Homo sapiens: one gene and its partners. The protein of the gene in region 3 interacts with the protein of the main gene of each other region in a pairwise test. Each region holds a gene or a part of one and is shown on either strand. Other genes may lie near its edges.

The links.
Region 1: the proteins of TMEM106C (region 3) and PGA4 interact in binary tests that used the Homo sapiens proteins (3 or more experiments, as listed by UniProt).
Region 2: the proteins of TMEM106C (region 3) and AIG1 interact in binary tests that used the Homo sapiens proteins (3 or more experiments, as listed by UniProt).

The regions. Positions count from the first base shown.
Region 1 is NC_000011.10:61,220,802-61,224,556, reverse strand, and holds the start of PGA4 (pepsin A-4 preproprotein), read right to left. Parts: upstream 2,211-3,755; 5' UTR 2,157-2,210; coding exon 2,101-2,156; intron 1,615-2,100; coding exon 1,452-1,614; intron 1-1,451. UniProt on the Homo sapiens protein: Shows particularly broad specificity; although bonds involving phenylalanine and leucine are preferred, many others are also cleaved to some extent.
Region 2 is NC_000006.12:143,067,271-143,070,925, reverse strand, and holds part of AIG1 (androgen-induced gene 1 protein), read right to left. Parts: intron 1-3,655. UniProt on the Homo sapiens protein: Hydrolyzes bioactive fatty-acid esters of hydroxy-fatty acids (FAHFAs), but not other major classes of lipids. Show a preference for FAHFAs with branching distal from the carboxylate head group of the lipids.
Region 3 is NC_000012.12:47,966,475-47,969,412, reverse strand, and holds the end of TMEM106C (transmembrane protein 106C), read right to left. Parts: intron 2,731-2,938; coding exon 2,681-2,730; intron 2,206-2,680; coding exon 2,152-2,205; intron 1,281-2,151; coding exon 1,184-1,280; 3' UTR 535-1,183; downstream 1-534.

The DNA of each region.
Region 1 (3,755 bases), on a different chromosome or scaffold from region 3:
ATTTTCCCCCTGCCGGCTCTGTTCCCGCCACACTGGTCTGCTTGCTGTTCTTTGGCGATGACCAGTCACTCCTGCCCTAGGGCCTTTGCACTGGCTATTCCTTGTGCTAGGAAAATGTTTATTCTAGATCTTTCCTTGGCTGATCCTTTTATCAAAAATCAATCATTCAGCTCTCTAGTCAAATGTCCCCTCTGCCAACAGGCCTTCCGTGACCACTTTATCTAAATTTGCCCCCTCTCAATCTTCTTGTTCCCCATGCTCCCATTAATTAATTTGCCAAGGCCCTTATCATTACCTGAAATTATCTTACATGGTTGTTTATTTGTTATCCCCTTTAGAGTATAAGCTCCAGGAACTTTGATTATTCACCATCATTTTGGCAACTTGCATAGCCTCTGGCACATAGAGAGGTGCCAATATTTGTTAAATATTTGTGAACTAAATAAATGCGCTAATTAAGCCTCTTACCAAGGGCCTGGCAGACCCCATGCTAAGCACTCCAGAAAACATGATCGTGTTAATTCCTGGCAACATCCTCTGACGGTAGATATTAGTGGTTCTGTTTTCCAGACCAAGACACAGGCTCAGAGTATTTAAATGACTTGGCCAAGGTCCTGTGGCTTAGAGGCACTAGGACCCATATTTGCACCAGGTCTGCTGGATGGCAGAGGCCAGTCTCTGAACCACAGGCATCACTGCTTTGTGCCCTGTGCCAGTCACAGAGGGGACATACAATATCTGCAGGAGGGCAGGGTGTTTGCTATCGGGTCTCAAATAACAAAGTCAGGGTGATCTTTCTGAAACTCAGATCTGATCTTGTCATCCCCCTGTTTAAGATAAATCAGAGGCAGTTAGGATGGAGCCTCTCTGCGTCCACCCCTCAGTTCCTCGGACCGCAGTCTGCAGCACCCTTCTTCCCTCCCTCTCGGCTCCCCTTCAAAGGCACTGTGCTCCCGCCTGCTACAGGGTTTGGCACAAGGGATCAGGCTATGCGGAGTTCTGTCTTGTTCTCTTGGAAACTCCTGCTCTTCCTGCGTGGCTCCAGGGAGGCTCCCTGCCCAAGTGGCAGACTCTCGCAGTGTGACACCGTCACTCTGTAGTCCTCCTGCTGCCTGTTCTTTTCATTGGTTTGCGAGACCCCTTGATGACTGTGTTTGTCTCCTAGGCTATGAGTTTGCTCACTGCTGTCTCCCCCTGAGCCCAGCACAGGCCCTGAAATAGAATGAGGCGCTCAGAGAAATTAACATTGCATGAACGAGTGAACGAATGAATGAATGAACTCTGACTGTGAGCTTTCCTGCCTGCCCTGGGCCACTGACATCTAGGGGGCAGACTCTGGGTCACTGCCTGGAGCCACAGAGCCCAGGCCCGTCCTCCAAGACCCCTGGGACACCCTCTTTCCTGCGGGCCAAGTCCTCAGAGCTGGCCCCACCACTTGCCCGCACACTCACATCCAGGTAGTTCTCCAGGGGCTGTTCATCTACCAGGGTGGGAGCCTCCCACTGGGGGAAGTACTTTCTGGCTGGGTTGAGGTTGTGCTTCTTCAGGAAGTCCTTCAGCAGGCCACGCTCGGACAGGGTGCGCCTCAAGGACTTCTTTCTGATGAGGGGGACCCTGTGGTTTGGAGAAGGAAGAGGAATTAGGCAAGGATTCTGCTGACCGGGTGCTGTGGCAGCCCCAGAAGGGAAGGGAAGCTGGTCTAAGAGAGGAAGAAGGAAGGAAAGGAGACGCCCCCTCTTCTGCCCAACAATGCAAAGAAGTTAAGTTGACTAGTGCTGGAGCTGGGAGCCAAACCCAGGCTGGACTCTTAACCAGCTGATCTAAGAGAGGAAGATGGAAGGAAGGGAGAAGCTCCCACTTCTGCCCCATAATGCAAAGAAGTTAAGCTGACTAGGGCTGGAGCTGGGAACCACAGTCAGGCTGGGCCCGAGTTTTAACCATGTCTGCAGGGCTGCCTCCCAAAAAGGCAGAGAGAGAGGCGGAAAAGGGGGATGGAGACAGCTGAAGAGAGAGAGAAAAAAAAGGGAAGAAGGAAGACACGGGAGGAAAGAAAGGTGATGTGGGAGGCAGCGTCTTCACACCCACACCACCCGGACTCACTTGTACATGATGCACTCAGAGAGCGCCACCAGACCCAGCAGCAGCAGCCACTTCATGGTTCTTCCCGGGTCCCAACTCGAGGGAGAAGGCAAGATGGGAGGAAGGTGCAGAGCAGCAGCATGAGCTGCCCCTTATATACAAGTTGGGTCCCGCCTTATCGGCCTCTGAAAGTCACCGGTTCCCCTGATCCCAAACAGAGAAGCTCCTGATAAGATTGTGGCTGCCCTGAGCCACATTCTGAGACCTTTCCAGCTGAGGCACTTTCCATTGTAACCTTGCACCATGGGGAGGGGGGAGGGTGCCATGGGGGTGGACCCGCAGAGAGAGAGAGGAGCAATGACCGGGAGGCTATTTTCTTTTCTTTTCTTTTTCTTTCTTTTCTTTCTTTCTTTTTTCTTTTTCTTTCTAAGCAATGACCTGGAGGCTTATTTGTTTTCTTTTCCTTTCTTTCCTTTCTTTTCTTTCCTTCCTTTCCTTCTTTCTTTCCCTTTCTTTCTTTTTCTTTCTTTCTTTTCTTTCTTTCTCTTTCTCTCTTTCTCTCTCTCTCTCTCTTTCTTTCTTTCTTTCTTTCTTTTCCTCTCTTTCTCCCTTTCTCCCTTTCTCCATTTCTTTCCTTTCTTTCCTGAGGGAGTTTTGCTCTGTCGCGCCGCCAGAGGCTTATTTCTGAAGCATTGACAAGGGCCTACGTTAAAACTTTACCAGCTGAGCATTTTGACAAAGTTGGTTAAAAGTGCGTTTAACACAGCATTGGAGAGATGTGAAGGAGCCCCAGGTGGCCTGATTTGTCCCAGAGGGCATGCAGCTGGGGTTCTTAGAGAGCAGCCTCCCGACTCAGTCATAGGTGGTACTGGTTGTGGTCACTGCTTATTCACAGCACATTGGGGGGGTCAGTCGTTTGGGACTCAGGACACAATTCCCCACATAAGTGTCATTGTGTGGGGTTGTTGGGCGTCTGACTAGCCTATGGGCCTTGTGGCTTGCTTTTGGTGCAACTGGGCTGAGTCTGGGAAGGAGATGTGCACAGTACACGGGGGAGGAGGGAGACAGCACCGGGAGAATGCTGCCTTCCCTTCCTGGAGGAGGCAAACTTCAGACAGGCCAGGTATGTCTTTGGAATCTGTGTCCCTCCCTTTCTGCACCGCTTCTCTTTCTTTTGCTCCTTTCCCACCCTCTCCACCTTTGAGATCCCACCTGGGTCTGATTTCTCCAGGTGCTCCAGGCTTACAACTGGGTTGAAATCAGCTACAATGGAGCGAAGCAATCTGGGCAAACAATTCATACTCATGGGTGAGTGACTTAGAAAGAGGATGCTTGGCCGGGCGCCGTGGCTCACGCTTGTAATCCCAGTACTTTGGGAGGCTAAGACAGGTGAATCACCTGAGGTTAGGAGTTCAAGACCAGCCTGGCCAACATAGTGAAACCCCGTCTCTACTAAAAGTAGAAAAGTTAGCTGGGCATGGTGGTGGGCGCCTGTAATCCCAGCTACTGGGTAGGCTGAGGCAGGAGAATCACTTGAACCCAGGAGGCAGAGGTTATGAGAGGTGAAGCCGTCTGGGCTTCTGAGTCGATTAGGGACTTGGAGAACTTTCGTGTCTAGCTAAAGGATTGTAAATGCACCAATCAACATTGTGTGTCTAGCTAAAGGCTTGTAAATG
Region 2 (3,655 bases), on a different chromosome or scaffold from region 3:
TGTATTTCTTACAACTGAAGTGAATCTACAATTACCTCAATTAAAATGTCAATTAAATATAAAAGGGTCACTGCCGTTGAATGTTTTTGTCTCTAAAATTCATGTGGAAGCTTAATCCCCAATCTAACAGTATTAAGAAGTAAGGCCTTTTAAGAGGTGATTGAGTCATGAGGATTCTGCCATTAATGGATTAATGTGTTAACAGATTATCACAGGAGAGTTAGTTATCACAAGAGTGGGTCTGTCATAAAAGCTAGTTTGGCTCTTTCTCTTATGCCTCTCTTGTCCTGTGATGCCTTCCACCATGCTATGGTGCATCAAGAAGGCTCTCACCAGATGCCAGCACCATGCTTTTGTACTTTTGAGCCTCCAGAACTGTAAGACATAAGTTTCTTTTCTTTATAAATTACCCAGTCTGTGGTATTCTGTGATAGCAACACAAAATGGACTAAGAAAATAAAAATTTCTAAAAAAAAATTAAAAATACCATTCACAATAGCACTAATCAAAAATAAAATAGGTATAAACCTAACAAAATACACGCACAAACTATATGCTGAAAACTACAAAACATCAATGAAAGAAATTTAAAAATCTAAATAAATGAAGAGATATGTCATGTTCATGGGTTGGAAAAGTAAATATTGTTAAGATGTCCAACTTTCCCCAAATCGTTTTATAGATTCAATTAAATTCTACTAAAAAATCCAAGTACAATTATCTGTAGATATTAACAAGATTATTCTAAATTTAAACAAAAAGGAAAAGTAATTAGAATAGCATAAACAAATTTTGAAAAAGAACAAAGTTAGATGATTCTCACTACCTGCTTCGAAGATTTACTATAAAGCTGCAATCAACAATGTGTGGTACCTGTGAAGGGACACACACATCAGTGGAGCAGAACAGAATCCAGAAACAGACACACAAATGTAGTCAATTGATTTTTGACAAAGGTGCAAACGTAATTCAATGGCAAAATGACAATCTTTTCAAGACACGGTGCAGGGAAAATTGCACAACATATACCAGAAAAAAAGGATTATAGATAAAAATGTAAAACCTAAAACTTTAAAACTTCTAGGAGGTTCCATAAAAAGAAGAAAAATGGTAAATTTTGTATCATCAAAATGAACTTTTGCTCTGTTTAAGACACTATTGATAAAATAAACTACAGACAGGAAGAAAACATTTGCAAATCACATATTTGCCAAAGAGCTTTCATTTGGCAAACATAAAACCTCTCAAAGCTTAATAATAATAAAACAACCCAGTATTTTTTAAATGGGCAAACTTCACAAAGAACATGAATATATTATTAAAAGGCACAGGAAAAGATAATTAACAACTTCAGTCATGAGGGGAACTCAAAACCACAATGAGATAGTGCTACACACCTATTAGAATGGCTGAAATAAAAGAAAAATTGACAACGCCACACTCTGAAGATACAATATGAGTTCCCATCTGTGGAGCTCTCACACATTGCTGGTGGTAATGCAACATGGCACATCCACTCTGGAAAATTGTGCATCTATCAAAACTGTGCATCTATCAAAACTATGCATCTGTCAAAACTTACAGTATTGTATACTAAAAAGAATAAATTGGCCGCGCGCGGTGGCTCATGCCTGTAATCCCAATACTTCGGGAGGCCAAGGCAGGTGGATCGCTTGAGCCCAGGAGTTCGAGCCCAACCTGGGCAACATGGCGAAACCCCGTCTCTACTAAAAATACAAAAAAATTAGCCAGGAGTGGCGGCATGCACCTGTAATCCCAGCTACTCGGGAGGCTGAGGCGGGAGAGTCACTTGAACCTAGGAGATGGAGGTTGCAGTGAGCCGAGATCACGCCAGTGCACTCTAACCTGGGCGACAGAGTGAGACTCCATTTCAAGAGAAAAAAAAAAAAAGGAATAAATTTTAGTGTATGTGGATGAAGAATTTATAAAAACCATATGTTCATATTGAATTTTTTGTTTTTTTAACAGAAGTATATATATGACTGAAAAGTCAAATATCAAAATACTAACATCAGTATCTCTAAGTGATATCCGTAATTTTAAAATAAGTTTTAAAGAATATGATTTTTTCTGATATCTGACTACATACGTATGAACACACATATACATATATACTGTAGTCTCTCTATGTTCCTGTATGTACTAAAGTTCCAAAATAAATACCATCCTGAAGCACTAAAATGCTAAGATGCAAGGAAAATTAGGGAGAATTAAGATGGACTATATTTTCTTCCCTGTATTTCTATTGTTTCCTGTATTTGCACAAATTTTCTATAATAAGTATGTATCGCTTTTGAAATTAATTTTTAAAATTATAACACAACCTGACAGACCTAAATATAAGACAATGTGAGTGCACTAATGCATTGTCTGACTTTTCAGAATTCCATGCTTCTGTCTTACATCTTGTTCAATTCCACAATGGATCTGATCAAGTGGTGTCTCACTTTCCAAGAAAGCTCTGCTTCCACCGCACTCAGAAGGGCTACCCTGCAGGTGAGGCATGGGCCCTTTAACTGTCTAACTACAGACTGCACAAGAGAGCTATGTTGTATAGAATCCTAAGCAGTAAGATTTTTCCAAGCACGCTTGGATCACATGAACATCTGATTCAATGTGGAAAATTGTACTGTTGTTCTTGCTTCCCCCAGAAACATGACATTTCAGAGGAACACACAGAAACAAATGAAAACCCTCAAGAGCAGTTACCAATTTTGCCAAATGTTATACCAGACATGGGGGAATGGCAGGAATGGGAAAAGAAGTGACCTCAACTAGTGGTCAGATGACTTTCTGTAATTTCAATACCATTTGCAACTAAGAGGGAATGGGTGATTATATCATCAACTATTTCCCCCACTCTAACAAAACCAGGCCCCTATTTTATGCCTGATCCAAAAGAAACATGCAAAGAAGGTGAAGAGGATTCTATGCAAAGCATTATTCTCACAATTCTTCCTCCAGGTTAGGAAAAAACATTATTTGAGCCTTCAAGTTTATATGCATATTTTAGGGTCAAGTCTGAGTCTCCTGAAGAAAAAAATTGCAATTTTACACTCTCTGTATAATATCCAAAACCCCAAAAAACAAAAAACAGAAAAAAATCCACCTAATTTTGTTCCCTGAGTACTCAATAAACTACTGGCCTTCACGTGGCAATGTGTGGTTTTGACTGGCAAAACTAAGTACCATAGTTACATAATGACATGCAGAATCTCTTCTCAAGGTATTTTATTTCCTATTTAAAATTAAGTCATGAACTAGAGACAAGAATATGTTTTATGATAAGTATGTAAATAAATATAAGACTAACTCAAATGCAAAATGTAGTATACTTAAGCAGCTTATTTTCCCTCTTTAACATTTTTTAAATGTCAAAAATTCTCAGCATGTCTAAAAGCAAAAATGGTATCGTCCAGGTACACTTGACTATTTCCTATTCTTTGAGCACCCCAAGCTTTTCCACATCTGAGACTTTATTTATCCTCATCTCTCTCTGGTTTTCTGAAATTCCTTTGCAATACAGATTTAGATAACAAAAAAAGTACCTAGATTATATTACCTTAAACTTCTACAAAAATGCCTTCACCTAGCCAAAATATAAGACCATGCCTTTGGCTTTCATAAAACCATC
Region 3 (2,938 bases):
AGCTTTAGTTTGAAGATTCAAGACTATACAGATCATTAAGCAAATATTGAAAACCAAGCTATGGGAATGGAGACAAAAACTAATATACAACCCCAGCCACCACCTGTTGTTGTTAGGGTTTCCTGAGGTCCCAGTGCTATGGGAAGAGCTGACTTCTAACACCTGACTACTCAAGCTTCTTAACTAGATTCTCTGCCATCCTGGGGCTGTAGCCTAACCTCTGGTGGCAGAGCAGGTGGAGATGACCCAAGAAACTTACAACCTCAAACCAGGATGTCTTATTCAAGACTGAATTCCAACCTCCATGGGGCACTGAGTGCTCTGTCCTGGAAGGGAACAGGGTAGCCCCCTGCCGCAAGAGGCAGATGGAAGAAAATGAGGCTGCTTGCTGTGACAGGAACTCATGGGAACGGGAGTACAATCAGGGTGCAGTCTCTTTCCTCCTATTCCATCCTGACCCACTTGGAAGGGAACTATTCTACGGTTCCCCCAGAGATCCCTACAAAACACCCAGGCAATCAGAGGAGACACAGATGAATCAAAAGCAGGGTTTATTTTTCTATCAAATCCCCAATCCATGTTCCAGCCAATGGATGAAGGGTGAATCAAGCCCCACATAGACTCTTGGTAAAAACAATTCTAACTTTCTAAAAAAAAAAAAAGCCAACACACTTTTTTCTTTCTTTTCAAAAAGCTCCCAGGCCTTTGGGAACAGCTGAAACAAATTCATATCCTGACTAGGTCTGTTTTCTCTTAGGTATTTGGATGGTCCCTCTCTGCTGCCACTTCTGCACAGATGAGGCACTGATAATGGCCTGCAGGTCACTCACAATCCTAGCTCCACATCACTCCATGGTTTGATAACCTAGAACCACGTTATGATTTCCATTTATAATGCCCTAAGAACAGCTGAAAAGATCTGTATTAAATTCTGCAAATCTTTATTGAGTGCCAACTATTTGCTGGGCACAGGCTAGGCACTGATTCTGCTGGTTCTGAGAAACATAAATGGTACCATAGGGAGGTGTTTCCTCCTAAGTGGCAGGAGGATGTTTGCTGGGAGTTAAGTGAACCAATTCCTCCTCTGCTTACACCACGTGGGGGTAGGTCCAGAACTCAGGCCTTGGGAACATATGCTGTGCTCTCTTCTACAGGCGCTGTGTGGAAGAACCAATAGCAGTTGTTAAATAGCTGTGGAATTTCCTCCACAATCCACATAGTGATGTGTCTCCAAGGAGCTCTGGGTCATGAGGCCAATGTATGAAATCTTCACTGAAGTTCTAGGGAAAAGAAAACCAAGAAGAATTAATTATGTTTGGGGGATGAAATAAGCCAGAAAAATGTCCCAGGAAATTTTTTGCAAGTTCAGAGAACAATACCCACGGGCCCCAGGCACATATCCTCATGGTTATGTAACCAGGAGGCCAGAAGATCTTTCCACTTTCACAGAGATACTGTGCCAGGAGGTGGCCTTCCAAACAAGGCTTCTCAATCGAGAATGATTTTACCCCACAGGAGACTTCTGGCAATGCCTGAAGACATTCTGGGTTGTCACAACTAAGGGATGGAGGGTTTACTACTGGGATCTAGTGGGCAGATGCCAGGAATACTGTTAAACATCCTATAATGCACAGAACAGCCCCCTACAACAAAGGTCTGGCCCAAAATGTTCGTAGTGCCAAGGCTGAGAAACTCTGCTCTAACCCCTCATATTTCATGTCTGCAGCAGAGTCTTGTCACTTGCAAATTTAACAGCCATGCTTCCAGAAAACAACCCTAAAGGTCCATGACATGTGGTAATTTGTGTGGCTAGAGAGGAAGTCTGGTCAAATGCCCAGTACTTAACATCTTGAGAAAGCTTTTCTGTTCATGACTGTCTCATTAGGATTCTGAGGGGATCAAGTGTTTAGTTAAACTAGACCCATTTTATGGAGAAAATGTTTGACTGCTCAGGGTGACTGGTGATTTGTGAAGGGCATGTGGACACTGTGTTTAGAGAACACCAAGGGTCTACTGTATCTGTGCCTGTGAGGCACAGGGTGTCCCCTCGGGCTAGGTGCCTCTGCCCTGTGGTCACACAGGGGCCTCCTGAGCAAAGGTGGTAGGCTCACATGGCCGGACAGGCCATCGGGATAGGGAAGAGAGACGCACCGCATGAAGATCACTATGTTGTGCACCAGGATCTCAGGTACCGTGCAGAAGAAGCTACCAAACAGCAAATATGGAAATAGTCAGTTTTTTTTTTTTTAAAGCCTCAGTAGAAGAGTGCAGAGTTACACTGTCCTGTTTGGGGTGCCCCCCTCCCCCTTCCGACCTAAGTGCTGCCAAGGCTTGTCAGCTCTCAGTCCCTGCCACTGTCATTTTCATCCTCCCACAGCGTCATACCACTTTCTGTTTTTTCAAACCCATCACATAAGTGCTGGAGCTTGGTAACGTTTTTAGTGGCTTAATGTTCTCTTTTAGAAATTCCAGCACTTCTGTCACATATCAAATAATACATTCTTCAAATACACACATAATAATAATACATTCTTCAAATAAATCTCAAGACATCCAAAGCCAGGGAACCTATAAGTCAAAAGCTGAGATCTAAGGCAGGACCAGGCCCCAATCAATGGAGTATGACTTTGAATCCCTTTCCTCCAGTAGAGAGCACACACAGAGAGAACAGTGTCCTTACTACACATAGGAAAACGGTCCTCCCATCTCGGCCTTCCCGGTAAAATTCACCTGAAAATAAGATACCAGAGTTGGTCTGTGGCCAAGCAGGCTTGACACAGAACAGTATTATTATTAGCAATCCAAAGACCTTGGGTCATTCTTCCATCACATGCAAAATACTTCCCTGAGATTGTCCCTAATATAGTCTATGAGCCTCTAATTGATACTGCCAACCTCTTCCCTTTTGAGAGGCCAATGGACCTCAGGCTGTAACACT